4 linked regions of the Homo sapiens genome follow. The protein of the gene in region 1 interacts with the protein of each later gene in a biochemical or structural test. Each region holds a gene or a part of one and is shown in the gene's direction. Other genes may lie near its edges.

Evidence for each region.
Region 2: the proteins of PEX13 (region 1) and PEX19 form a complex in vitro, tested with the Homo sapiens proteins (2 studies listed by BioGRID and IntAct, with this or other methods).
Region 3: the proteins of PEX13 (region 1) and PEX14 form a complex in vitro, tested with the Homo sapiens proteins (one study listed by BioGRID).
Region 4: the proteins of PEX13 (region 1) and PEX5 form a complex in vitro, tested with the Homo sapiens proteins (3 studies listed by BioGRID).

What each region holds. Positions count from the first base shown.
Region 1 is NC_000002.12:61,048,688-61,052,492, forward strand, and holds the end of PEX13 (peroxisome biogenesis factor 13), read left to right. Parts: coding exon 1-83; 3' UTR 84-3,303; downstream 3,304-3,805. UniProt on the Homo sapiens protein: Component of the PEX13-PEX14 docking complex, a translocon channel that specifically mediates the import of peroxisomal cargo proteins bound to PEX5 receptor.
Region 2 is NC_000001.11:160,282,100-160,290,084, reverse strand, and holds the start of PEX19 (peroxisomal biogenesis factor 19), read left to right. Parts: upstream 1-4,951; 5' UTR 4,952-4,960; coding exon 4,961-5,030; intron 5,031-5,229; exon of another isoform or gene 5,230-5,720; intron 5,721-6,445; coding exon 6,446-6,555; intron 6,556-6,975; coding exon 6,976-7,141; intron 7,142-7,582; coding exon 7,583-7,668; intron 7,669-7,884; coding exon 7,885-7,985. UniProt on the Homo sapiens protein: Necessary for early peroxisomal biogenesis. Acts both as a cytosolic chaperone and as an import receptor for peroxisomal membrane proteins (PMPs).
Region 3 is NC_000001.11:10,596,921-10,603,954, forward strand, and holds part of PEX14 (peroxisomal membrane protein PEX14), read left to right. Parts: intron 1-2,317; coding exon 2,318-2,446; intron 2,447-7,034. UniProt on the Homo sapiens protein: Component of the PEX13-PEX14 docking complex, a translocon channel that specifically mediates the import of peroxisomal cargo proteins bound to PEX5 receptor.
Region 4 is NC_000012.12:7,199,682-7,206,715, forward strand, and holds part of PEX5 (peroxisomal biogenesis factor 5), read left to right. Parts: intron 1-2,069; coding exon 2,070-2,160; intron 2,161-2,559; coding exon 2,560-2,670; intron 2,671-2,930; coding exon 2,931-3,023; intron 3,024-3,750; coding exon 3,751-3,870; intron 3,871-7,034.

The sequences.
Region 1 (3,805 bases):
TTGAATCTGTTTTTGTTGAAACTAATAAGGTTCCAGTTGCACCTGATTCCATTGGGAAAGATGGAGAAAAGCAAGATCTTTGATATCTTTCATGTTTGCCTGCAGTTGAACAATACTTTAGAGTACTTTTTAAAATTATTTCTCACAAAGAAATGAATGTACAATCCAATGAAAACATTTGTTATTGGCTATTTCAGGTGTTTTGCTGCTAGAAATTATTAAAGTTACACACTAGTATGTTGGTCTGGTGACCTGGTTACATTTTATTATACACATTATTGGACCATAAGGACATTTGTTTCACCTAGATTTTAAGATTATGGAGACTGCTGTCATTTTTATCTTATTTAAATCTCTAGGTTTATTGGAAGAGTAAGATTGATGAACTATAGCATGCACAGTTTGGTACAGTAGAGATCATTAATACTTTTAAAAGTTCTGCATTAATTGACTTGGAATCCTTAGAAATGGAGTGGTGACATGTCAGTATGAGAACAGGCAAAAGGTAAATTTTTTTTTTTTTTTACAACCTTAAGTAATCTCAATAATAAAATTTTCTGATCTGTATTATATCCAGTGTTGGGTTTATATTTTCACCCACAAACAACTGACACTGCTATCTTTTACTGTATTTTTAAAAATTTAATTTGAAAAGGTCACCCAGAAGCATTCTGAAGGAAATGGTTCTAGAATTATAGAGTATGTAGCCCTAATAGTTTTCCCTCCTAGCAAAAAGTCTGAAATTTATCTTTCTTACAAACTGTTCCATTTCTTCTAAGGATCCCTTAATTATTTATCTCTTTAAGCCAGGCATGGTGGCTCACGCCTGTAATCCCAGCACTTTGGGAGGCTGAGGCGGGCAGATCACCTGAGGTTGGGAGTTCAAGACCACCCTGACCAACATGGAGAAACCCCATCTTTACGAAAAATACAAAATTAGCTAGGTGTGGTGGCACATGCCTGTAATCCCAGCTACTCGGGAGGCTGAGGCAGGAGAATTGCTTGAACCCCAGGAGGCGGAGGTTACGCTGAGCCGGAGATCTCGCCATTGCACTTCAGCCTGGGCAACAAAAGCGAAACTCCATCTCAAAAAATAAAATTATTTATTTCTTTAAAATATGACTAGTTTTCATACTGGGTGAATCAGAAGTATATGAAAGGTATACTTTCTTTTCCTACAACAAATACTTGAGTTCTTTTGAGTTTGCACTTAATGATATAATCAGTTATAATAGTAATTTTTAATATTTTCATAGATTGTTTGCTTCTACCTTGTGTAATTTTTTAAATTCCATATTTAGGATGCTCTGTAAATATTGAAAATGTGTCACATTGGATACATTTTTCTTTTAGGTTTAGTTTTTACTACTGAGACTTATTTATAGTCTTAGTGCTCTATTGCCATTTAGAATATGATAATCCTCATGCCTTTAATCTCAGCACTTTGGGAGGCCAAGGCGGGCGGATCACCTGCGGTCAGGAGTTTGAGACCAGCCTGGCCAACACGGTGAAACCCTGTCTCTACTAAAAATACGAAAATTAGCTGGGTGCAGTGGCGTGCACCTGTAGTCCCAGCTACTCAGGAGGCTGAGGCAGGAGAATCACTTGAACCCGGGAGGCAGAGGTTGCAGGGAGCTGAGATCATGCCACTGCACTCCAGCCTAGGGGACAGAGCAAGACTCTGTCTCAAAACAAACAAACAAAAAATAATAATACGATAATGCTATTTGACGTGTTTTTTGGTTTATAATGATTTTAAATGCAGTTAACTTTCAGTACACTGAATATTTCCCCAGAAAATTGGAAACTTCATATACTTGGCTACGAACATACTACAGAGTAATACTATCAGGAATACAGGTGTATAAGAATACATTTATAGATATTGTTGAAAACTTTGAACTGTTTGATAAAAATTGTGATTTAGTATTTTTTCTTTTGTCTTTTTTTGAAACGGAGTCTCACTCTGTCGCCCAGGCTGGAGTCCAGTGGCGCGATCTCGGCTCACTGCAAGCTCCGCCTCCCGGGTTCACGCCATTCTCCTGCCTCAGCCTCCCGAGTAGCTGGGACTACAGGCGCCTGCCACCAGGCCCGGCTAATTTTTTTTGTATTTTTAGTAGAGACGGGGTTTCACCGTGTTACCCAGGATGGTCTCCATCTCCTGACCTCGTGATGAGCCCGCTTCGGTCTCCCAAAGTGTTGGGATTACAGGCGTGAGCCACCGCACCCAGCGATTTAGTATTTTTTTCTAATAGACTATGTTCAACAAATAAGTAATTCTCGAATAGTTCAGATTAAAACATACAGGAACCAAGTACATACCCAGCATAGAAGAACTTTACTAAAGGCTTCTTGGAAAGCCCTTTTTTGAAACGACAGTATCGTAAGTAACATATCATTTATAATAGAAATCTTGACCCAGTGCAGAAAAATAAATATAGTAAAATTTATTTATCTTTGGCCAGTTTTCCAACACCCAGGTATTAGCCTTGAAGTTGAAGAGATAAGGTTTCTTGTATATTATTTTTCATTTGTGTTCTACAATTAAAGGTTCTGCTTTGATTTGTCAGATAATTTATAGAAATTTTGTTCTCAAAACAAATGTTTGATAAAACAGATTATTAAATTTGGGGTTGAGATGTCTAAATTGAATGCTAGAAGTAAAGTAGAAGTGACCACTATTAAAGATGTATAGGGAGAAGAGTACAGCACAAAGTGATAAAATAGTGACACTTTTGTAGGGGTGTTTATTGTTTGGTTAAGTCTGCTAAATTACGGTATGCATTATCTGGTGACTATTTGTGCCTGAAAATTCGTTTTGTATTAAAATTCTGGAGAAGGAATTCAGGACTAGAATAAAGAGAAATTTTGTAACCTTTTTTATCATGACAGTTTTAGAATAATTTTTTTAGCTGAGATTAAATGTTCAAGGCTCCAATATTATTTTTAGGAACTTATTTAAGGAGTGCTACTTTACAGAAATTACTAACACACCAAAACATTATTAATTAAATAAAATATAAGTTTACAATAATAAAACATGTTTCTTTTAATTTTTCTGATTATATTTTATGAGTTCAGAAAGGAAATGGTAAAAGAACTATACATTTTCATGTTTTAACATTTTATGTACGTACTTGATTCTGTCTGTGTCATAATTACACATTTACTTGAACACAGCTATCCTTTATCTTGTGCTTTCTTTAATAGAAAAATGAACAGAAACTGAATGCAGTTAAATTTTTATTTTTAGTAGGTTGTGAAGTTACTTTTACTGGAGAAATAAAAATATGTTAAACTTGATTGACTTTTTAAGATAAATTGTTAACACTTTTGCAGGATTAGAATTAATATGAAGTATCTCTTTAACATTATTGTATATATTACCTACTGCAAACCTATCTGTTCTGTTTCTTTGTGATTTAAAGAAAAATAGGCCAGGCATTGTGGCTCACACCTATAATCCCAGCACTTTGGGAGGCCAAGGCGGGCGGATCACAAGGTCAGGAGTTCGAGACCAGCCTGACCAATATGATGAAACCCCGTCTCTACTAAAAATACAAAAATTAGCCAGGTGTGGCGGTGGGTGCCTGTAGTCCCAGCTACTTGGGAGGCTGAGGCAGGAGAATTGCTTGAACCTGGGAGGCAGAGATTGCAGTGAGCCGAGATCGCGCCACTGCACTCCAGTCTGTGCGACAGAGCGAGACTCCATCTAAAAAGAAAAAAACAAAAAAAAAAGAAAAATAATACATTTATATAGAATTACCTACAGGTGTGTTAAATAAAAACACTTCATACCTAGATT
Region 2 (7,985 bases), on another chromosome or scaffold:
AGCACCTTCCCCCTGCAGCTACTCTTCAGATCTGGCTCTCTGTACCCTAAAACCTAGTATCTTTTTCTCTTCTATGGAAAATCCGAAGGTCTAAACTTGACTTTTTTGAGGTCTTCTCAACTTGACTACAGTTGTGCTCATAATTGTCCTTGCCTTTCCAGCTTAATTATTTTAAGGAACAAATGAAAACTCTGGGCTGGGTGGAGTGGCTCATACCTGTAATCCCAGCACTTTGGGAGGCTACGGTGGGCAGATCATCTGAGGCCAGGAGTTCGAGACCTGCCTGGCCAACATGGCAACACCCCGTCTCTAATAAAAATATAAAAATTAGCCTGGCATGGTAGCATGCGCCTATAGTCCCAGCTGCTCAGGAGGCTGAGGCATGAGAATCGCTTGAACCTAGGAGGTGGAGGTTGCATTCAACTGAGATCATACCACTTCATTCCAGCCTGGGTGACAGAGCAAGACTCTGTCTCAAAAAAAAAAAAAAGGAAAACTCTGTGATGGACATTTGTTTAGTAAATCCCTTCAGTATTTATCCCTCCTTTCCCCACAGCAGCTTTCTTTCCTGTCAACTAGAAAGGAGCAGGATGTAATAAATACATTTTGGTGTGACTAGGCCACACCAACTCTTAATCATCTCCCATTTTCCTTAGACATTTAAATTTCAAGGCAGGTACCCTCTGTGTACTCAGAAATTTGAAGAAGTTATTTGGTTTTCCAAAATGCACACTGCGGGTTATTGATTTGTTCTTTACAACTATTGTTCTCATATTTCTCACACTAAATAAATCTCTATGAGAGCTTCTTGACTTGGCCATTTATTTCTTGGACACTCTCATGTTCTTGTTCACCCATGCAGGCACCCCACCAAAGTACATATCTTCCTTCCAGTAATAATTTTTAATTACAAAATAAACATCCACTATTGGAAAAAAAAAAAAAAAGCTAGCCGGGCATGGTGGTGGGTGCCTGTAATCCCAGCTACTCTGGAGGCTGAGGCAGAGGATTGCTTGAACCCGGGAGGCGGAGGTTGCAGTAAGCTGAGATCGCGCCACCGCACTCCAGCCTGGGCGACAGAGTGAGACTCCATCTCAAAAAAAAAGAAAGAAAAAAAGAAGCACATGTTTTTCATAGGGTATATATGAGGACCTAAACTGCTGTGAAAATGATAGAAAGCAAGTAGCTCCCTTATTCTGTTTTTGATTGCAGCCTTTTATCTTTTGCTAATTATAGCAATATTTATTGAGCACCTGCCATGTGACTGTCACTGTTCTAGATATTTTACATGTAATATACAGATAAAAGAATAGTACTTTATATATATTACAATGATACAATGATTACATTAACAATACAATATTTTGCTTGTCATATGCTAAGAATAATTGGGTAGAGTGACATTACTGTGCCTTCGATTAAAATAAGTACTTTTTTGCGTGTTAAATTCATGTTTTCAATAAATAATAAATGCATATAGTTGAAAAATCAGTAAATATAAAAAGCTATTCTGTGACAAATCTTTCCACCCTTTCATCAGCCACCCAGTTCCTATCACCTTCCCCTAAACAGGTAACCACTGTTACCAGCTTTCTTACATCCTTCCAGAAATTTTATATATATATATATATACACACACACACATATACATGCACATGCTGATATCACTATGCCATTCTCTATCTCCTTTTATACACAAATGAAACCACACTATTTAACAATTTTGTACCTTTGTTTTTTCATTTAACATTTTTGGTATTTTCTCGTATCAATATATTAGGGAGCTTCACTTTGTTTTTTACTTCTCTTCATACTATACGTTGTATTTTTTAGCTTTATCTTAAGAGTTGCTTTTTTAAACAGCATCCCTAAACTAAGGCTGCCTTCTCAACAGAGTACATACTACTAATGAGATTGTGCCATTGCACTCCACCCTGGGGTACAAGAGCGAGACTTCGTCTCAAAAAAAAAAAAAATGTACATATTAGCCGGGAGTGGTGGCTCACGCCTGTAATCCCACCACTTTGGGAGGCCAAGGCAGGCAGATCACCTGAGGTCAGGAGTTCGAGAACAGCCTGGCCAACACGGTGAAACCCTGTTTCTACGAAAAATACAAAAATTAGCTGGGTAGGGTGGCAGGCACCTGTAATCCCAGCTACTCAGGAGGCTGAGGCAGGAGAATTGCTTGAACCCGGGAGGCGGAGGTTGCAGTGAACTGAGATCACACCATTGCACTCCAGCCTAGGGGACAAGAGCAAGACTTTGTCTTAAAAAAAAAAAAAGGCCGGGCGTGGTGGCTCACGCCTGTAATCCCAGCACTTTGGGAGGCCAAGGCAGGCGGAACACGAGGTCAGGAGATCGAGACCATCCTGGCTAACATGGTGAAACCCTGTCTCTACTAAAAATACAAGATGTGAAATAATTGTGACTCCCAGGCAAGAATTAGAATTTGTTCGATAAACTGTGGAGAACCATTAAATCCTTAAGGAACAGAGTGATATGAAAGCGTTATAAAATACTGTTATTCAACAGTATTCGCTATACATTAGAAGGGCAGAAGGAGCAGTCAGTAGGTCAGTAAATACTGAGATGAGATGTTAGGAATATTAGGAGTAAAAATAGAAAAGCAGAAAGAAGTTTAAGAAATAATGCAAAGAAAGAATCATGCTTGTTTTTGACTCCATTTTAATTATCATCTATTATCTTTTAATTAACATGCTTATATTACATTAGTTTAAAGCCAATTGACCAAGTGTAGTGGCTCACATCTATAATCCCAGTACTTTGGGAGGCCAAGGTGGGCATATCACTTGAGGTCAGGAGTTAAAGACCAGCCTGGCCAATATGGTGAAACACTGTCTCTACTAAAAATACAAAAATTAGTTGGGCATGGTGGCGCGAGCCTGCAGACCCAGCTACTCAGGTGGCTGAGACAGGAGAATCACTTGAACCCGGGAGGTGGAGGCTGCAGTGAGCCAAAATTGCACCACTGCACTCCAGCCTGGGCAACAGTGAAACTCTGTCTCAAAAAATAAAACCAATAGAGATGCCTGTTGATAGACAAGTTTTCTTTTTTTGACGTGCTTGTTACAACTATAGCCATATTGGAGATACACGTGTAAGCAGTTTGAATGAGAAAGTCTGGAATAAATTATGTTGCAGGTGTTGGAAAACAGGTTTATCAGGAAAGGATTTGATTACAGAAGTTTAGAATTGTAAAGGACTTCAAAAGTGATTAGTGGCAGAATTGGGGCTGGAATTTAGGCTTTCTAACTCACAGTTCATAATATTTTGATCCCAAAACACACTACTTGTGGTTGGAAGAAAACAGGTTTTGCAGATATGATTTTACAAGTCTGTGCCCTATCTGTGAAGGACATAGTAAGTGCTTGATCTGGTGCTTGATGCAGTACTCAAATGTGTGTTTAGGAAGCTAAGAATGAAAGTGATGAGGTGACTTAACACAGGATTTTTTTTCATTTAAAATTCTTACCTTGTATCATACTGTGTGTATATCTCATCATACCTCCGGCTCACCCCCACTTAGCTACCTTACAGCAGGGGGTGGTCCTGATTTATCTCTCTGTCCTCACTGTGCCCAGAACAAGACCTTAATAATAGGTGCTCTCTAAGTGCGAAAACAGATTTGTATGTGAAACAGTTGCTACATTCTGACATCTGAATAGAACAATTCCAAAGGAGGAAAGGGACGTCTAGAGTTACCTCTATCTGAGCATTCCCCGTGTTCACTCAGTTGGAGGTTGGGTTCTGTGTGGAGAAAAGGAGATTGTTCAGGGAAAGTAAGTCTATTACTACTGCATTCGAATTGCCCTGCTCAGTCCAAGGTACCAGAGGCTCTCTTAATAACATGGAGTTCTAAGTTCCTGGCCGGCCCTGTGTCCTTTAATCAAACAGTTCTAATAGATAATAGGAAATGAGAGATGCCACTAGATTGGGCAGACAGATGTGCCTGATTAGGGACTGCGAGAGCAAAGAGTGGCCAATGAATGCCTACTAAGTTTTAAACCCTAGCCTGGGAGTTGGGCTTTACAGCAGTGAAGACAACAGACGAAAATCTTTGCGTTCATGGTGTTTAAATTCTGCAGGGTGGGGAGCGGAGAATAAAAAAGTACGGTAGATAGTATGTCAGATACTGTTCAGTGTTAGGAAGAAAAGGAACGGGAATGGCCAAGGAAAGCGTTTCAGAAAAGATAATATTTGAGGGAAACAATGAAGTGAAGCCGGGCGCAGTGGCTCACGCCTGTAATCCCAGCACTTCGGGAGGCCGAGGTGGGCGGATCAGCTGAGGTCCGGAGTTCGAGACCAGCCTGGCCAACCAGCCTGGCCAACATGTTAAAACCCCGTCTCTACAAAAATTAGTCGGACGTGGTGTCGCGCGCCTGTCATCCCAGCTACACGGGAGGCTGAGGCAGGAAGAATCGCTTGAACCCGGGAGGCCAAGGCTGCAGTGAGCCGAGATGGCGCCACTGCATTCCAGCGTAGGCGACAGAGCAAGATTCCTTCTCAAAAAAAAATAAAAAAAAAAAAATGAAGTGAGAGAAAGTAGTATGTTATGTGCCATAATTGTCATATCAATTATATATGTTTAGATTCTGGTTATTTGTAGGCAGTTTGTCTCAATCTGGCCTACTCACAGCTCAGGAAAAAATAATGAAAGAGCTTCGCCAGGTAATTTGGGAAGTTGAAAGAAAGGAGTCCGGGCCTCTAAAACCAGACAGAAAATAACCCTATCTTATCCCTAATTCTGTTTCACAGGAGAAAAGGGAAAAATACCCAAAACACAAACACTCAAAGCTTCCTGGCCCTTTAAAAATGGCGGTTCCGCACTGGTCAACAATACCATTGGTTACCCGAGGCAGAAGAGGGCGGGAGCGAAGGGGTGGAGGGCGTGTCGGCACCGAGGAGGTCCCGCCTCCTACGGCAAGTCGGAGGTAGCAAGATGGCCGCCGCTGAGGAAGGCTGTAGTGTCGGGGCCGAAGCGGACAGGGAATTGGAGGAGCTTCTGGAAAGTAAGAGCCCATAGTGGGAAAGGCCCGAAGAGGGCACGTGTGAGGACCCATTCTGGGGGTTAAGTGAACCTGAGATATTAGGGACGGGCAGGAGAGGCTCTCCAAAGGTTAAATGGGGGCGGAGAGTCTGACCCCCGAGCCCCCCAAAAATCTCTGGGTCATCCTGCCCCACCCCGGCGACTGGAGCTGGGGAGCTCACCTGGGGTCCCTCAGTGGTCCGGATGGTGGATGTTTCCGCAGGACGGCGTTTCATGATACCTCTTCAAACTCCTCTTTAGGTTACTGAGTTCTTAAAGTTCGACTTCAGCAGCAGTAGCAGCAGCAGCAGCATTTGGTTCTTGCTGGGTAGCGAACTACGCACTCACTGATTGCTTACATTAACTCCTAGCAAGCTCGTGGCCGGTCCTTGTGTGCCTCGTCCTGTCTTCCTTAACACGAAAGACACTTTTCTCCTCCTAGTCCTTTTCTCTTTCTCTCGTTAGGCCCCTTAACAGTTCTTTCATCTTGTCAGTAGCTCAAGCGGACTCCTTTCCCTTATTTTGAGAAACTGAGGATGTGGCGATTTCAGGGGAAAGCAGTTCACCCTCCTGAAAGACGGGGGATGTTTTCTTAGCATTACTCTCCACTCCCCTGTTGACTTCCTGCCCAGAGTAGGGCCAGTGCTCTCTCCCTAGGCCTGGCGAACAGAATGGTGGTGAGGACACAGGCTTTTCAGGGCAGAGGTGAATTTGTAATCGCTTGCTCAATCACGGAGATGTGGGCAGGCAGAAAAATGAACAGAAACCCTGAGGAGTGCCAAGTGACTGTGTAAATTAGTGTACGGTTATCTGCAGAGATCAGGCCAAAGGGAGCTCTAGAAGGTTGTTGGGGAGCACTAAACTGGAGAATAAGAGAAGATAGTTTAATGCCGTACCATGGAGTCTGGTATGTAGTCCCTCAGTCTGTGCTGGTACCAGTACCAACAGGAAGCTGGGTGGGATGTCCTGTGCTTTCTCACCAAGTTATTCCTTTTAGAGCTCCAGAGTGAGTTCAGAGGGATGAGGACATCTGTGTTCTCTACTACTGTTGGGTATTTGTATGGGATTTCTAGGGAATCGTTAGGGTGTGGCAAGGGAGACACTATAGATGGAGATGTCTCTGCAGAACTTTTTAATCCTCTCCTCCCAGCTCTGAGATGGACATTTGTTCCACCTTAAGGGATTTCTTTGCCTTTGCTCACAATAAATTAGGTAATCCAGAAGGAAGTAGGAGGCTCATTGAGGGTGGTCTGGGGAGGTGGGGGACTCAAGGAGGAAAATTGAGGAAAGTTGGCAATTTGAAAAATCATATTCCTAATGCTTTGCCCAGAAACCACCCAGCCTTGCTTGCATTCTCATCTGTCGCCAACACACACACCATGTCTCTTGTCTCTGAAGGTGCTCTTGATGATTTCGATAAAGCCAAACCCTCCCCAGCACCCCCTTCTACCACCACGGCCCCTGATGCTTCGGGGCCCCAGAAGAGATCGCCAGGAGACACTGCCAAAGTATAAATTCCACCCCCTTAAGGGATGGGGAGGGGATGGGCATGCAGCCCTGAGCAGAGGTTGGGCAGGCCCCTATGGGCCAGAGGGGAATGTGGGAGGGTACCTTGGCCTCACATTGGTGAGTGCTCTTGCCAGCCTCAGTCCTTGTGAAATAAGGACTTGAGGTTGAGTGGGGGAATCTCAGAGTTCCTTGAAAAAATAGTAGGTTTAAATGGTTGGATTGGTATGCCATCCCATACCCTCCTTCAATGACTAGATACCTTTTTTGCTATCCTCATTAGGAGCAGTAGTTAGAATGTCCAGTGGAATTGGGTAGGAGGGAGGTGCATTTCCCATAGCCACTGCCTGTGGCTTCTATCAGAGGCCAGGTGCAGTGTAGTCCTAAGTAAGAGACGCATTTCAGCCATCCTTCCCCCGCAGGATGCCCTCTTCGCTTCCCAAGAGAAGTTTTTCCAGGAACTATTCGACAGTGAACTGGCTTCCCAAGCCACTGCGGAGTTCGAGAAGGCAATGAAGGAGTTGGCTGAGGAAGAACCCCACCTGGTGGAGCAGTTCCAAAAGCTCTCAGAGGCTGCAGGGAGAGTGGGTGAGGAGACCCCAGATACATGGAAATATCTGAACAGACTCTTAAGTCTTTGTTGCCTGAAAACACCAGAATTCTTAGTGAAGTTGATAGCAATCATGATGTCACAGCCAAGGAACGGGTAAAGGCAATGAGAGAAAGGATGGGAATCCCTGTTAATGAAAAGGGGTGAGATAGGTTGGAAAGTAATAGAAAACATTATTCAAAACTGACCATTTGAAAGGTCACAGTGTTATTGTGGGTATCATCATGGAGAATAAACTGATGCAGAGTCCGTGTACTAAATAGATTTATGAAAAGACTATGAAGATAACCATAGGGTTTTCCAAGATTGGGAGTGATAATGATTCACTAGTAAATGCTTCATATCCAAGCTGTTAACCAGTTCAGTCTAGGCAAGGAAACAAACTCCTAAATGACGCTGGCTTTTTTAATCTCTCCTAGGCAGTGATATGACCTCCCAACAAGAATTCACTTCTTGCCTAAAGGAAACACTAAGTGGATTAGCCAAAAATGCCACTGACCTTCAGGTGAGGAGAAAGTAGTAGGGGCCCACAAGGGGTCCACTCCCAGACATTTCTCCAGCAGAGTCTCAAAAGACAGATGCTTTGAGTATCATCCCAAGTCTGTTGCTGTCTTATTGTTTGTTACAGGCAAGTTTAGATAGTTTATCTTTGTCACCTGAGAGAGTGGTGAGCATCCCAAGAAGGTAGTATACCTGCTCACCTCTTACTTGTCCTATCTAGAACTCCAGCATGTCGGAAGAAGAGCTGACCAAGGCCATGGAGGGGCTAGGCATGGACGAAGGGGATGGGGAAGGGAACATCCTCCCCATCATGCAGAGTAT
Region 3 (7,034 bases), on another chromosome or scaffold:
GCCCTTTCAACTGTGGCCTCACTAGTGGGCTCGGCTGCGATAATGCAAGGAACATGTTTTATTAGGAAAATAGGCTTCATAAAAGCTCAGGGCCAGAGGGCAGAACTGCGGGCAGGGCGTCCTGTCCCTTTAACCAGCTCCGGCCCTCAGGGCCACAGCACAGTCTGTAACTTACTGTATATTTCCCCAGTGTTAAACATTATTGTACTTGTTTATATTTGAAAGAGCCAAAAGGGAAAATGAGAATGCAACTGAATGCTCCTTTTGGGAAAATTATCTTCATTTGCAGCCAGCGGCTGACAAGGCACACGAACCACCAGGTTTATAAAATTCCGTAGTGTACCAGTGACCATCAGCCTGTGCTGACATCGCAGATGCTGCTTTCTTCTCTAATGGCTGATTATGAACTGGTTAAAACAATGTCTTTCCCACCAGGGCTCCGAAAGGGGTTCCCCTTCCTGTTTAGTCGGAGCGATCGGCAGTCACTACACAGGCTGGAACCTGAGAGGCACAAACTCAGGGCGGGGGTATTCTCTGTTGTTGCCTGGCTTGCCTGTTGGTCCTGTCCCTGTTCTTCTTGGAAGGTGAAATTATGGGTAAAGCAGTCCCTTTGCAGCAAGCACCCCCTCTCTAGCTCCACTCTACTGACCTTCAGCTTTTGTCTTTGGAAGGTGGTACGTGATGCGCTGTGAACCCTGGAAGCATTTTCATCCAGCCCACCAATCTGTTGAGAGCATGGTGCTATCAGGGCAACCCGGTGGCTCTTCAGACTTCCCAGTGGTGAGGCTGTGCCTGCCCTTGGCCAGCTCCACTGTGTGAAGAGGGTAAAGAGGGGAACAGCTGCAGTTTTAAATGGGGATAGTCCTCAACTCCTCAGCACAGAGAAGGGAAAAAAGAGTCCAGGGCTGTTTAGAAAAGTTCGGGCATTTTCCTTTGACTAGCTGTGGTAGGGCATGAAAAGTTTGAGGGGTGGCTGCAGTCAACTCATATGCCAGTATGGTGCAGGGCGGAGCTGTGCTTTAAAGCATTAATGTGCACCATCTATTAGCCCCTAGGCATGGAGTATGAGGCACCATCCTTTTGAAGATGCTGATCCTCAGAACCTCCTTGTACTTCATCTACCCCCAGGGGCAAATATACCATGCTGTGGGCCTCTAATGGAGAGCTGCCGACCAGATGTGGAAAAGCTCTCGGCTGTAGTTTAAAAGCTCTGTGTTGCGGCTCGCTTGGATGTTGGGATTCCTGGAACAGCAAGGGCTGGCCGAGTGGTCTTTTGCAGACTAACAGTGACCTCCCACCTGCTTTTCCCACTCTCAGCAGCTGGAGTGCCTTTGTACACACAGCTACTTCCTGAGCTGGCCCCGTGTGACCGCTCCTTTCATACTTGAGCGCCACATTTCATTCTGTTCTTTGGGTTGGATGGGGCTCTCTTCCTCCTCCCAAGAGTCAGTGTCCCAAATTGGCTCAGACCCGGTGGAAATATCCCAGCTGTGTCCCCACTGGAAATGCGGCCTTCATGGGTTTTCATTTGCCTTTTATTCTTCTGTGGGCAAATCCTCTCCACATGGCATAGCCACTGCAGATGGCGCCCTGCCACTTCCTGATGTCCCATGTATGGTGTGGTTTAGAGTGTCGGGAGGATTTCAAGAAGGGAAAAGAAAAACTAGCCAAAGGCGATACAGGCAGCGTGTGATAGGCTAGAATAATAATCATCTGAAAGTTTGGGCCTGGCCTTGTTTTGATCTGTTTTCTTGTTTTATTTTCTTCTTTACATTCTATATCCCATTCATACTAATCACAGTCAGTCCTGATTTTTCTTTTTATTTCTGCATTTGTCATAAAATAAAGCAAATTATTCCCGTCTTCAGAAACGATCTAGACTAATTAGTCGTCTCACCCAATAATTAGTTTTTTGTTTCCCTGTCTGTTTTCGTGCATTATTGTTAGTTTTTTCCCCTCTTTTTTTTTTAACACCATTACAGATTAAAATGAGCCACATTTGCAGTTGATGGTATCTGTTTTCGGGGGAAGAATGGAGAATTGCAGTACCGAGCGACTTCAAAAGCAGCAATAAACTCAAGGATAAATTAAGGAAATTGAATGAGCCACATTTGGAAGCAGTGTTGAGGCTAATATTCTGTCGCTTAAGGTTAAATTGCAACTGAGAGAGGTTCCGGAGAATCTGAAATCGGGGAGGCAACTTACTAGGATGCGAGGCATTCTGTGGCTGTAAAGGTCTTTGCTCAGTGAAGATTCTGTTGCAGCTATGGACACTGACAAAAGGTACTCACCTGCAATGATGTCCTCTTCTCCCCAGGGCTGACAGATGAAGAGATTGATATGGCCTTCCAGCAGTCGGGCACTGCTGCCGATGAGCCTTCGTCCTTGGGCCCAGCCACACAGGTGGTTCCTGTCCAGCCCCCTCACCTCATATCTCAGCCATACAGTAAGTCACCCGCTCAAACTCCTGCTTAACCTTGATTGGGATTCAGGACTCTGGCCAAAGGGCAGTGTTCTGTATCTCCCAGACTTAGCAAACCAGGAGAAACTGGGAGCAGCAGAAAGCTCTTGGGTTTTTCCCAAGGAATGTGACACACCCCAGTCTTCTAGACAAACTTTTTAAAGTATGTGACAAAGGTTTAAGAAGAGACAAGGGATCAGAATAAATGATTTTATTGTTGTTTCAGGTATTTTGGTTACATGCAGAAAACCTGTACAACTATTTATTGATTCTGTTCCCATCTCCTCATACCAGTGCTTTTGAATGTTACTGTTTCACTAAAAACAGCGTGACCATCTGACTCATGGGTGCATTCTTGTTTGCTCACTGCAATAACCTGTCTCCCACTTCTATTTTTTTAAGTTAATATTTGTAAGTTTAGGTCAGCCTCCATTTCCCTCCCTCCCTTGTCCTGGCTATACTTTGTACGTTTATGTAGTAGCGGTCTGTTAGGGAATTTCAGGTTAAAACATGAAGTTCCTTTTTGAATGTTTCTTTTAATTATACGAGATCATGACCCATGAGGGGTCTTTCGTTGTCTTAAATGAAAGCTACTATAGGAATAAAGTTTCTTCAAACAAGTTATAAATGCATACCTCCAAAATGCAGCCAGAAGCCCTCCTTGAAATCACTTATAAAAAGTTTAAAAAGGCTAAAATTGACTACAAAGTTATGGAAAATAGCTCCATTTTGTTTCTTTAATGAAACTCAGCATTGGGCCGGGCACGTTGGCTCACGCCTCTAATCCCTGCACTTTGGGAGGCTGAGGCGGGTGGATCACCTGAGGTCAGGAGTTCGAGACCAGCCCGGCCAACATGATGAAACCCTGTCTCTACTAAAAATACAAAAAATTAGCCAGATGTGGTGGCAGGCGCCTGTAATCCCTGCTACTCAGGAGGCTGAGGAAGGAGAATTGCTTGAACCCGGGAGGTGGAGGTTGCAGTGAGCCGAGATCGTGCCACTGCACTCCAGACTGGGCAACAAGAGCGAAACTCTGCCTCAAAAAAACAAACAGGCAGGGTGCAGTGGCTCACATCTGTAATCCCAACACTTTGAGAGGCCAAGGCAGGCGGATCACTTGAGGTCAGGAGTTCGAGACCAGCCTGGCCAACGTGGTGAAACCGTGTCTCTACTAAAAATACAAAAAATTAGCCGGGCGTGGTGGCACACGCCTGTAATCCCAGCTCCTTAGGGGGCTGAGGCAGGAGAATCACTTAAACCCAGGAGGTGGAAGTTGCAGTGAGCCGAGATCACGCCGCTGCACTCCAGCCTAGGTGACAGAGTGAGACTCTGTCTCAAAAAAAATAAAATAAAATAAAGAAACTCAATACTGGATCTGTGATCTCTCAAAATGCCTTTTCTATAATTGTTATTCTCAGAAGTTTTATTTTTGCAAAAAATGATTTAAAACTGTTAGATATCAGATTTTAAGGCCGGGCGCAGTGGCTCCCGCCTGTAATCCCAGCACTTTGGGAGGCCGAGGCGGGTGGATCATGAGGTCAGGAGTTCGAGACCACCCTGGGCAACAAGAGCAAAACTCCATCTCAAAAAAACAGACAGGCCGGGCGCGGTGGCTCACGCCTGTAATCCCAGCACTTTGGGAGGCCAAGGCGGGCGGATCACTTGAGGTCAGGAGTTGGAGACCAGCCTGGCCAATGTGGCAAAACCCTGTCTCTAATAAAAATACAAAAATTAGCTGGGCATGGTGGCGGGTGCTTGTAATCCCAGCTACTCAGGAGGCTGAGGCAGGAGAATCGCTTGAACCGAGGAGGTGGAGGTTGCAATGAGCTGAGATCATGCCATTGCACTCCAGCTTGGGTGACAAGAGCAAGACTCTGTCTCAAAAAAAAAAAAAAAAAAAAAAGTGTTAGATATCAGATTTTAAAAGGCATATTTTAAAATGACAGATTCGTTTTGATCCCCCAGCACCTGGTCTGAAGCTGCCTTCTTTCCCTCACCTCAGCACTGTTTTCATCCAGCTCAGCTGCAGCTAGGCAGGTGTGATCTTGGCAGTAGAGCCAAAAAGGCCTTCTCTTCTCCGGACTTGCTGAAGGGCCAGCCAGTGGGTTGGAATCTGCTGTCTGTGTTACGGATCTTATTTAGAGATCTCCTCCTTTGGCTGTCCACAGAAGGCTGAATGGGGGAGGCCAGGGAGTGTGTGCTCAAGTGTGTCAATCTGTCAGTGCCTTGCATGGGTGACCCACTGCAGGTTGCAGAGCTTCAGTGGTGAGCCTTGTCCTGTATTTGGGCTACTGGGTTAGCACCTGTGACTTGTCAGCTTGGGGCTCCTTTCTCCTTCCTGGCCAGCATTTTTTCCAATCCATTGTAGTTGCTTTGGGTCCTAAGCTGACTTTATGTGCTTCTTTTTAACCAAAGGCTGAGTCTCCACACTTTTTCTTTAGTTGTGTCCCTGGGCCCAGCCGTGTAATGGGATTTGTTGAGGATAGGCAGCGGCAGCTGGGGTGCAGAATTTTCTAAGATGCACATCTGTTCTGTTCCAGCTGTTTCCTCCAGTGGCTTAATACCGAACAGGTCTCTCGGCTACTTGGAAACTTCTTACTCAGAACAAATTGTTCTGGTTGATCACAGAGTTGGCCTAAAACATCATATGTTCACCTACTTTCCATAGACACAAAGGGTTAAACTGTTAGTCTTTCTGAAAGAGGCAAAAGAATGGGGTGGGGAGGGGCAATTCAGTTATTTAAATCATACTCATGTCCAGATCGCTCTGAGAAAAAGCAATACACGTTGAGGTATTTAGGTAGGAATATTTTTAAGAGCCTTCCAGCCCCTAAAAATAAAATACACATTCTTAGACACAGACTTCTTCCTGCTTTGACACTAGTGTAAAAACAATGGTAATGATAATTTTAAATACCTGAAGTTTTTAGTTGTCATCATTGAGCTTCATTCTTCTCATACCGTTACATTGCTCCTCTCACTCCGGGGGTGACTCTACCTCTTCACTTCTGTACTTTTGCCAAGAGGTGTCAAAACTGCTTAAAAAAAAAAAAAGCTTGATTTTGATTAATATAGAGAAACAAGACTTTGCCTGACTGATAATAAAACTGATAAATGACATTTGAATTACTTGTAGCGGTAATTTATTACATAAAATATCTTTTATTTGACATGCGATTAGTTGCTGGAAGCATCACTCAATCTGACTAGTTTAAACATGCTCCAAAATGAACCCCAGTAAAAACCAGGGCTGTCTGCTGCTGGCATTATGAAATATACTAATCCTGGAGTGAGGGAAAAATCTGACTTTAAATATTTAAATGATTAATTGGGTTTATATATTTTTTTACTTTTCTAACCCCCTTAATTACAAGCAAACTCAGGGGAGTTTCTGAACTAGGTGCACAATCTGCATGCTTATCACTGAGGCATTGTCTGCGTCGGGAGGGATTTATGGCCTCTATTCATGTGTGTTCCTGCCGATTTTACATCTAGATCCCCGGCAGCCTTTTCCTTCCCATTTCTTGGCTTTTTACGGACATTCCATCTCTGAGCCCAAGGCTAGAAAATGGGATCCCCTGGGCCTAGCCCCAAACACTCAGGTCTCAGGGTAGGGTAGCTTTTCCAAGACCACCCCAGGGAGCCCAGTGCTCTTCACCTTTGAACCTGCTGGCCCACCTGCTCAGTGGCAGGTGTGCCACTGAGTGCCTCTTTTGGCATCTCTGTTCTTTGGTGAATGTGGTTGACCTTGAGATGTTAGCAAATGCCAGTGTTGGCAGAGAGAACGTAGAGACCTGCCCAAATAGTAACAGTTCAATTTCTCAGTATTTTTATTAACCATCTACTATACGGTCAGTACTATATCATGCGAGAGATCCAAAACCTGATCTTTAAGCATCTTGCTAAGCTCTTTGGGAAAGATAAGATAAACTCTTAAGAAAAGGATAATAATATAAGATGTTGTGATTTAATGCCAAAATTAATTATACAGACAAGAAATTCTGAAATTCTGAAATATAGAAAAGAGAAGAATTAATGTGGGCTAGAGTCAGGGAAGGCTTTTGTGAAAGTGATAGGAGGTTGGCACCAAGGGGAAGCTTGGTGTCACCTGGTGTGAGCATAAACCAGTGCTCTCGGGGGCTAGAAGAAAGTTGGTACAGTTCAGGAGAAGTCAGGCTGTGATTCGAGAGAAGATTTGAAATTCTCCATTTCTCATTTTGGTTTCTTGTCTGGCTTTACATCGGGAGTCAGTGCATGTGTATAGGTGCAGGCCTAGCCCAGTCCTGAGCAGAGGTCTGATAAATGCTGGTTGATTGATTCACGCCAAGCTGATTTGTCTTCGTCCTCCCAGAGAGACCAAGAAGCTTTGAGATATAAGCAGGACCAGTGTAAATTTTGTAGGATAATAATTTCTTCTTAGATTTGAACATTTTCCCTCCACTGTCTTTGATAAACAATTTAAACCCCTTCAAAGACTGACCTAGAGCTTCAGTTGCTTCTTCTCAAAATAGGATGTCAGCATCTGAGGCCGGTGAAAGGTTTTGAACCATTTGATTAGAAATCCTGAGAGAGA
Region 4 (7,034 bases), on another chromosome or scaffold:
CCATTGTCATCATGGCCCGTTCTCAATGAGCTATTGGGTACACCTCCCAGACGGGGTGGTGGCCAGGCAGAGGGGCTCCTCACTTCCCAGTAGGGGCGGCCGGGCAGAGGCGCCCCTCACCTTCTGGACGGGGCGGCTGGCCGGGCGGGGGGCTGACCCCCACCTCCCTCCCGGACGGGGCGGCTGGCCGGGCAGGGGGCTGACCCCCACCTCCCTCCCGGACGGGGCGGCTGGCCGGGCGGGGGGCTGACCCCCACCTCCCTCCTGGACGGGGCGGCTGGCCGGGCGGGGGGCTGACCCCCCGCCTCCCTCCCGGACGGGGCGGCTGGCCAGGCGGGGGGCTGACCCGCACCTCCCTCCCGGACGGGGCGGCTGGCCGGGCGGGGGGCTGACCCCCACCTCCCTCCCGGACGGGGTGGCTGCCGGGCGGAGACGCTCCTCACTTCCCAGACGGGGCGGCTGCCGGGCAGAGGGTCTCCTCACTTCTCAGACGGGGCGGCCGGGCAGAGACGCTCCTCACCTCCCAGACGGGGTCGCGGCCAGGCAGAGGCGCTCCTCACATCCCAGACGGGGCGGCGGGGCAGAGGCGCTCCTCACATCTCAGACGATGGGTGGTCGGGCAGAGACGCTCCTCACTTCCTCGATGGGATGGCGGCTGGGAAGAGGCGCTCCTCACTTCCTAGATGGGATGGCGGCCGGGCAGAGACGCTCCTCACTTTCCAGACTGGGCAGCCAGGCAGAGGGGCTCCTCACATCCCAGACGATGGGCGGCCAGGCAGAGACGCTCCTCACTTCCCAGATGGGGTGGCGGCCAGGCAGAGGCTGCAATCTCGGCACTTTGGGAGGCCAAGGCAGGCGGCTGGGAGGTGGAGGTTGTAGCGAGCCGAGATCACGCCACTGCACTCCAGCCTGGGCACCATTGAGCACTGAGTGAACGAGACTCCGTCTGCAATCCCGGCACCTCGGGAGGCCGAGGCTGGCGGATCACTCGCGGTTAGGAGCTGGAGACCAGCCCGGCCAACACAGCGAAACCCCGTCTCCACCAAAAAAATACGAAAACCAGTCAGGCATGGCGGCGCGTGCCTGCAATTGCAGGCACTCGGCAGGCTGAAGCAGGAGAATCAGGCAGGGAGGTTGCAGGGAGCCGAGATGGCAGCAGTACAGTCCAGCTTCGGCTCGGCATCAGAGGGAGACCGTGGAAAGAGAGGGGGAGAGAGACCGTAGGGAGAGGGAGAGGGAGAGGGAGAGGGCTTACTTTATTCTTTAAGATTTCCCCTTGGGTTATTACTCCTGTGAATTTATGGTTGAAATGTAGTCAAGGACACAGTGGTTGTGTGCCTGTACTCAGGAAGCTGAGGTGGGAGGATTGCTTGGGCCCAGGAGGTCAAGTCTAGCCCGAGGAACACAGTAAGACCTTGTCTTTAAAAAACCAAAAGCGCATGCATGTGTGCGTGCACACACACACACGCACACACATATATACACACATACACATATGTACACACGCATACATACACATACATGTGCACATACATGTATATACACACGTATACATATGTAAACATGTAGATACATGCGTACACATGTATACACACACATAGACATACATGTATACACACATACACATACACATGTATATACATACACACATACACGTATATATACATATCAGCTATATTTGGGAGGAAGGGAGTTTTCAGACTTTTAAAATATATGTATATAGGTAAATATATATATATTTTTCAAGAATCCTAACTATCCTATATGACGTTCATAACTTCATCTTAAAGTTCATAATTTTACCTTGTTCCCTTCTTAATTTTGAGCCTGCTACTATCCCATCTGTATGCAAAGATATGTTTGGGAAAGGGAGAGCTAGAAGGATGTAGCTAGTACTTTCACACTCCTGCCCAAATGTCCTTCTATAATGCAAATTGGAGTTTGTAGGTTCTCAACAGGAGAATGGAGTTCCCTCACAGGAACTGTCATTGTCATGGGCTAGGAGTGGGGAGTAGCATGGGGAGGGTGATGGCAGACTAATGTGTAAAATTAGTTCTTACCCGTTCCAGGTATGATGAATATCATCCTGAGGAGGATCTGCAGCACACGGCCAGTGACTTTGTGGCCAAAGTGGATGACCCCAAATTGGCTAATTCTGAGGTGAGCCACATCCCTCTGCTGCTTTGCCCAGCAGAGCTGGTTTTGGAAGGCAAGAATCTTGCTTTTCTTACCCCAGTTTAGTTTAAAGAGAAGGAGAAGAGATCTTAGGTCTCTTCGTTCCTGTCTATAGAACAGAGACTTAAGATCCTGCCTCTTCCTTCTAGTGTTCATTCCCTCATCTCCTTGCCTACTAACTCTTTTTTCTGATGCCTTTGCAAGTCTTTAGAGCCAGAAATCCCTTTCTTTTTGCTCTCTACCTCTTTTAGGGTCTTTAGCATATCTTGTCTGCAGCTAGAGATGGTCAGGGGAGGGGTGAGTACAGGGTCCTCTTGGGCATGGTTGAGAGTGCACACCTGGAAGTCCTTTCCCAAGTGGCCTGTGTGTGTCTCTGTGCCCCAGTTCCTGAAATTCGTGCGGCAGATTGGCGAAGGGCAGGTGTCCCTGGAGTCCGGTGCAGGGTCGGGCCGAGCTCAGGCAGAACAGTGGGCAGCAGAGTTTATACAGCAGCAGGTAGGACATTGTCACTTTCCAGTCCCACTTCAGAGCCAGCTGATGCCCCAGGCCATGGGTTCAGTGGTCAGTGGTCCCAGATGGGGAAGGATAAGACCAGCTTGTCTTGATAGCATCCAGGTCCCAAGTGGGTGGGAAAGAGATTCTGAGAATGATTTTCTCAGAAGTACCCAGGTTGGTGGTGGTTAGTGGGTATTTAGTGTGCGTCTGATGGATAGAAAGTTGGTGGTAGTGGTACTGACCATCCTTTTTTGTCGCAGGGTACATCAGATGCCTGGGTTGACCAGTTCACAAGACCAGTAAACACATCTGCCCTTGATATGGAGTTTGAACGAGCCAAGTCAGCTATAGAGGTGAGAGCAGATAGTGCAGGAGCAGACACCCCAAAAGAAAACACTCCTTGGAGTGAGTGGGTGTATGAACATCAAAGATGATGCAAATTGTATTTCATAGTGGACCTGGATCATCTGTGTCAGAGTTGCTTGGGGATGGGGTGGGTGCTGTTGAAAAATGCAGATTTCTGGGCCAGGCATGGTGGCTCATGCCTGTAATCTCAGCACTTTGGGAGCCCGAGGTGGGTGGATCACCTGAGGTTAGGAGTTCGAGACCAGTCTGAACAACATGGAGAAACCCCATGTCTCTACTAAAAATACAAAATTAGCGTGGTGTGTTGGCGCATGCCTGTAATCCCAGCTACTTGGGAGGCTGAGGCAGGAGAAATGTTTGAAACTGGGAGGTGGAGGTTGCAACGAGATGAGATCACGCCATTGCACTCTAGCCTGGGCAACGAGAGTGAAACTCTGTCTCAAACAAAAAACTAAACTAAACTATGCACTGCACTGCACTGCACTGCACTGCACTGCACTGCACTACATTACATTTCTGGCCATCACCCCAGACTACTAAATCAGTATCTGGGGATAGCATCTGGCCATTTGCATTTTAAAAAACTTATTCAGATGATTCTTAAACATATTGAAATTCAAGAACTGCTGCCTTAGAGAATCCCAGCAGAGCTGAGTGTGGGGTGGGGTGGTCATGATGGATCTCCTTTTTCTATCTGCTTTCCCTTCCTTACAGTCTGATGTCGATTTCTGGGACAAGTTGCAGGCAGAGTTGGAGGAGATGGCAAAACGGGATGCTGAGGCCCACCCCTGGCTTTCTGACTATGATGACCTTACGTCAGCTACCTATGATAAGGTGAGGTAAAAACTCTTAGTTTTTCAGGTTCCAGAACTTCCTTCTTTTTAACGTCTTTCCTTTAATCCTGAATTTGAAGGGTGCTTTTAAGTATTTTCTTGAGTCCCTTTCCACGAAAAGAAGTCTGAATAATTCCCTTGCCCTTCCTCTTCAGTGATTGAGTATAAACTTTATTCTTGGGATATAGATGTTAATGAGACTATCTTTGTCAATAACGACAGTCCAGTACATAACACCTGTGAAGGAGGTTTGCACATGCTTGCTGCATTAAAAGCACAGAGGAAGTAGCTCTGCTTGGAGGTCAGATTGGGAGCTTTTTGAGAAGACTGCTGACTCCTTTGGTGGGGAGTGTTAGTGGACAGACTATCCCTTTGCCTCCACATCTTAATATCTGTTTACTTTTTAAACTCACATATTCATTTTAAGTTCTTATCTTTTATAGGTAGTAGCCACTTGCCCTAATTTAGGGTTTTCAAAGAATTTATATTAGATAACTTAAATATTAGGGAAATTTCTTAGTAGTATGAAAGATGATTGCATTTTGCCTATAGCATGTGCTGTTGACTTAGAAGCATATGTTACTTCTGGGGTCTTACTGAAAAACAAATCTACCTGTGGGTTGTAGGATATTTGGGGATGTGTTTAATAACTGAGCTCCTGAGTTGAAACATGAAGAGGGGAAAGAATCACTTGGTTTTGAAAAAAGGCAAAACAGGAACTGGGGATGTGAGTAGTGATGTCTTTTTCTCAGTTCAGATCTGGTTGGGAAAGTATTGTGGGGCTGGAACCAGGGCCTGAGATGCAAACCAGGGTGCTGGAGATGGATCTTGATGTAATAAGGGAGCTATGCAAAGATGGGAAGATGCAGTTCAGAAAAAGGCTAGAGTTTGAGAGCCAGTGAAGAACAGTATTAGGAAAAATATGATTTTGCTTATTATTCCAGTCTGATCTGGATTTTTCTAACTATCCTGTGTGATATAAGGGAAAAGACAGCTGGGACCTTGCCATGTATTTCACTAGACTATGAGTTCATTGTATATAATTTTGATAAGGAAGAACTGAAGGAAATATAGATAACACTTTTGTTATTATTTTGTATTAACAATTTGATAAGTCACATAGGCCCCATCAACTTATAAATGGAAAGTTGTACATTTATGTAAAAATGTCCATGCTTTTCATACATATAGACATAATACTAGTTTTGTATGAGCAGCATTTTCTTTTATCATTTATTACTCTCGTATTTATGACATGCTGGCCAGAATACATTTTTTTTTTTCAGACACATAGAACAATGTGACAAATTAGAAAGCAAATTTTTTTTTAGAAAAAAAATCACATTTGATCAGGTTCCAAGAATAGAAATGTGGAAAGGATAGTCTTTTCGATAAATGGTATTGGAGAAACTGCATATCCATGTGCAAAAGAGTGAAACTGAACCGTTACCTCACACTATGTACAAAACTTAATCCAAAATGGCTTAAAGACCCAAATGCAGTACCCAAAACCGTAAAATGCCTAGAAGAAAACATAGGGAGAAAGTTTCTTGACATTAGTCTTTGCAATGATTTTTGGGATATGAGCTTTTGGTGTCATATCCAGAATACATTTTTTAATTAAAAACTTTAAAAGTATGTTTGTAGATTCTTGAGCCCTACTTGATATCATTGATACTTTGGGATATTGCAAAATTAGGACTAGAAATACTTGCATTAATGTTCCTCAAAAAGTGATGTAGTAAGCAATTAGACAGTATCTGGCTTTAAGCTAATATTGAATTCCATGTCAATAGAACTTTTTAAAAACAAAGGACTTGACTCTTGATTGTTACATAAATTCATGGATCTCTTTGAATGCACTGTTTGTTTATTGATAGCCCTTATATTTTCAGAGACAATTTACATTGCAGCTCAGGCAGATATTAATATACTATTATGATAAAAGAGAAGTATGTGATGGGACAAACTCTTTGTAGTGATCATTTCTGCAGTTTGATCCTATGAGATTTTGGAGCAGACCAGACCGTGTATCAGATAAAATTAATGACTTGGGTTTGGCTTTTCAGGATGTAACAGTGAAGCCAAGCTTATCCTGTGTTCTGTGGGTTGTTGAGGGATCCCCCAGAGTACTCTTTTTCCATCATCTATGCAAATATTCTAATTTTGGAAAATTCCTCTTTGATCAGCAATTGATGAGACTTCAAGGAGGGTAGATAATATGGATGAGAGGAAACTTAGAGAATCCTGTGGTTGCAAGATGGTGGCATTGAGTTGTTGTATTATCTAATGAAGACACCTGAAGAGCATTCGCATCACTTCTGGCTGTCATATACAGGCCATCATATCTTAAGGAAGTATCTAGAGCAGTGAGGATAATAGCTATTTACAGATAGTATCTTAAGCTTTTTGGTAAGGCGTTGGTGAAGATTCCCATTTGATGTTCTCAATGGCTCTGAGAGGCAGGAATTACTTTTATTAGGAAACTGCATTATAGATGACAGTAATCTCTGTTTTCTGTAGAGTGGCTTAAAACACGTATTAATGATGAACAATAGTTGAGGTTGAATGCAGAAGGATTTATTTTATTGAACTGTAATAGTCTAGGGCAAGGGCCAGCACACTGGCTTGTGGGATAAATCTTTATGTTTTTAGTGATCCACTAGCTGAGGATGGTTTTAACATTTTTAAATGGTTGGAGAAAATCAAAAGAGTAATACTTTGTGACAAGTGAAAATTATATAAAATTCAAATTTTAGTGTCCATAAATAAAATGTTATTGGAAGACAGCCGTGCTCATTTGTTTACTTATGTCTGGCTGCTTTCGCACTACAACAGTAGAGGTGAGTAGTTGCAGCAGATCCACGAAGCCTGAAATATTTATTATCTGGCCCTTCGCAGAAAAAGTTTGCTGATCACTGGACTAGCGTCATTTTCTGCCTTCTTAGTTTTTATATTATGCAGAGATGTCCAAAAACACACTTGTTTTCAATATAAATATACTTTCTATACATTTATCTCAAATCTACTATAATATGTCTTTCTTCTTAAACCCCCCATTGTAATTATTTAATTTTCATTTGTGACAAATAATTTGCATCTGATCATGACTTAGAATTTTGCTGGTAAGATTTAAGTGTTTTTGATTCTTTATCATTTTCACAA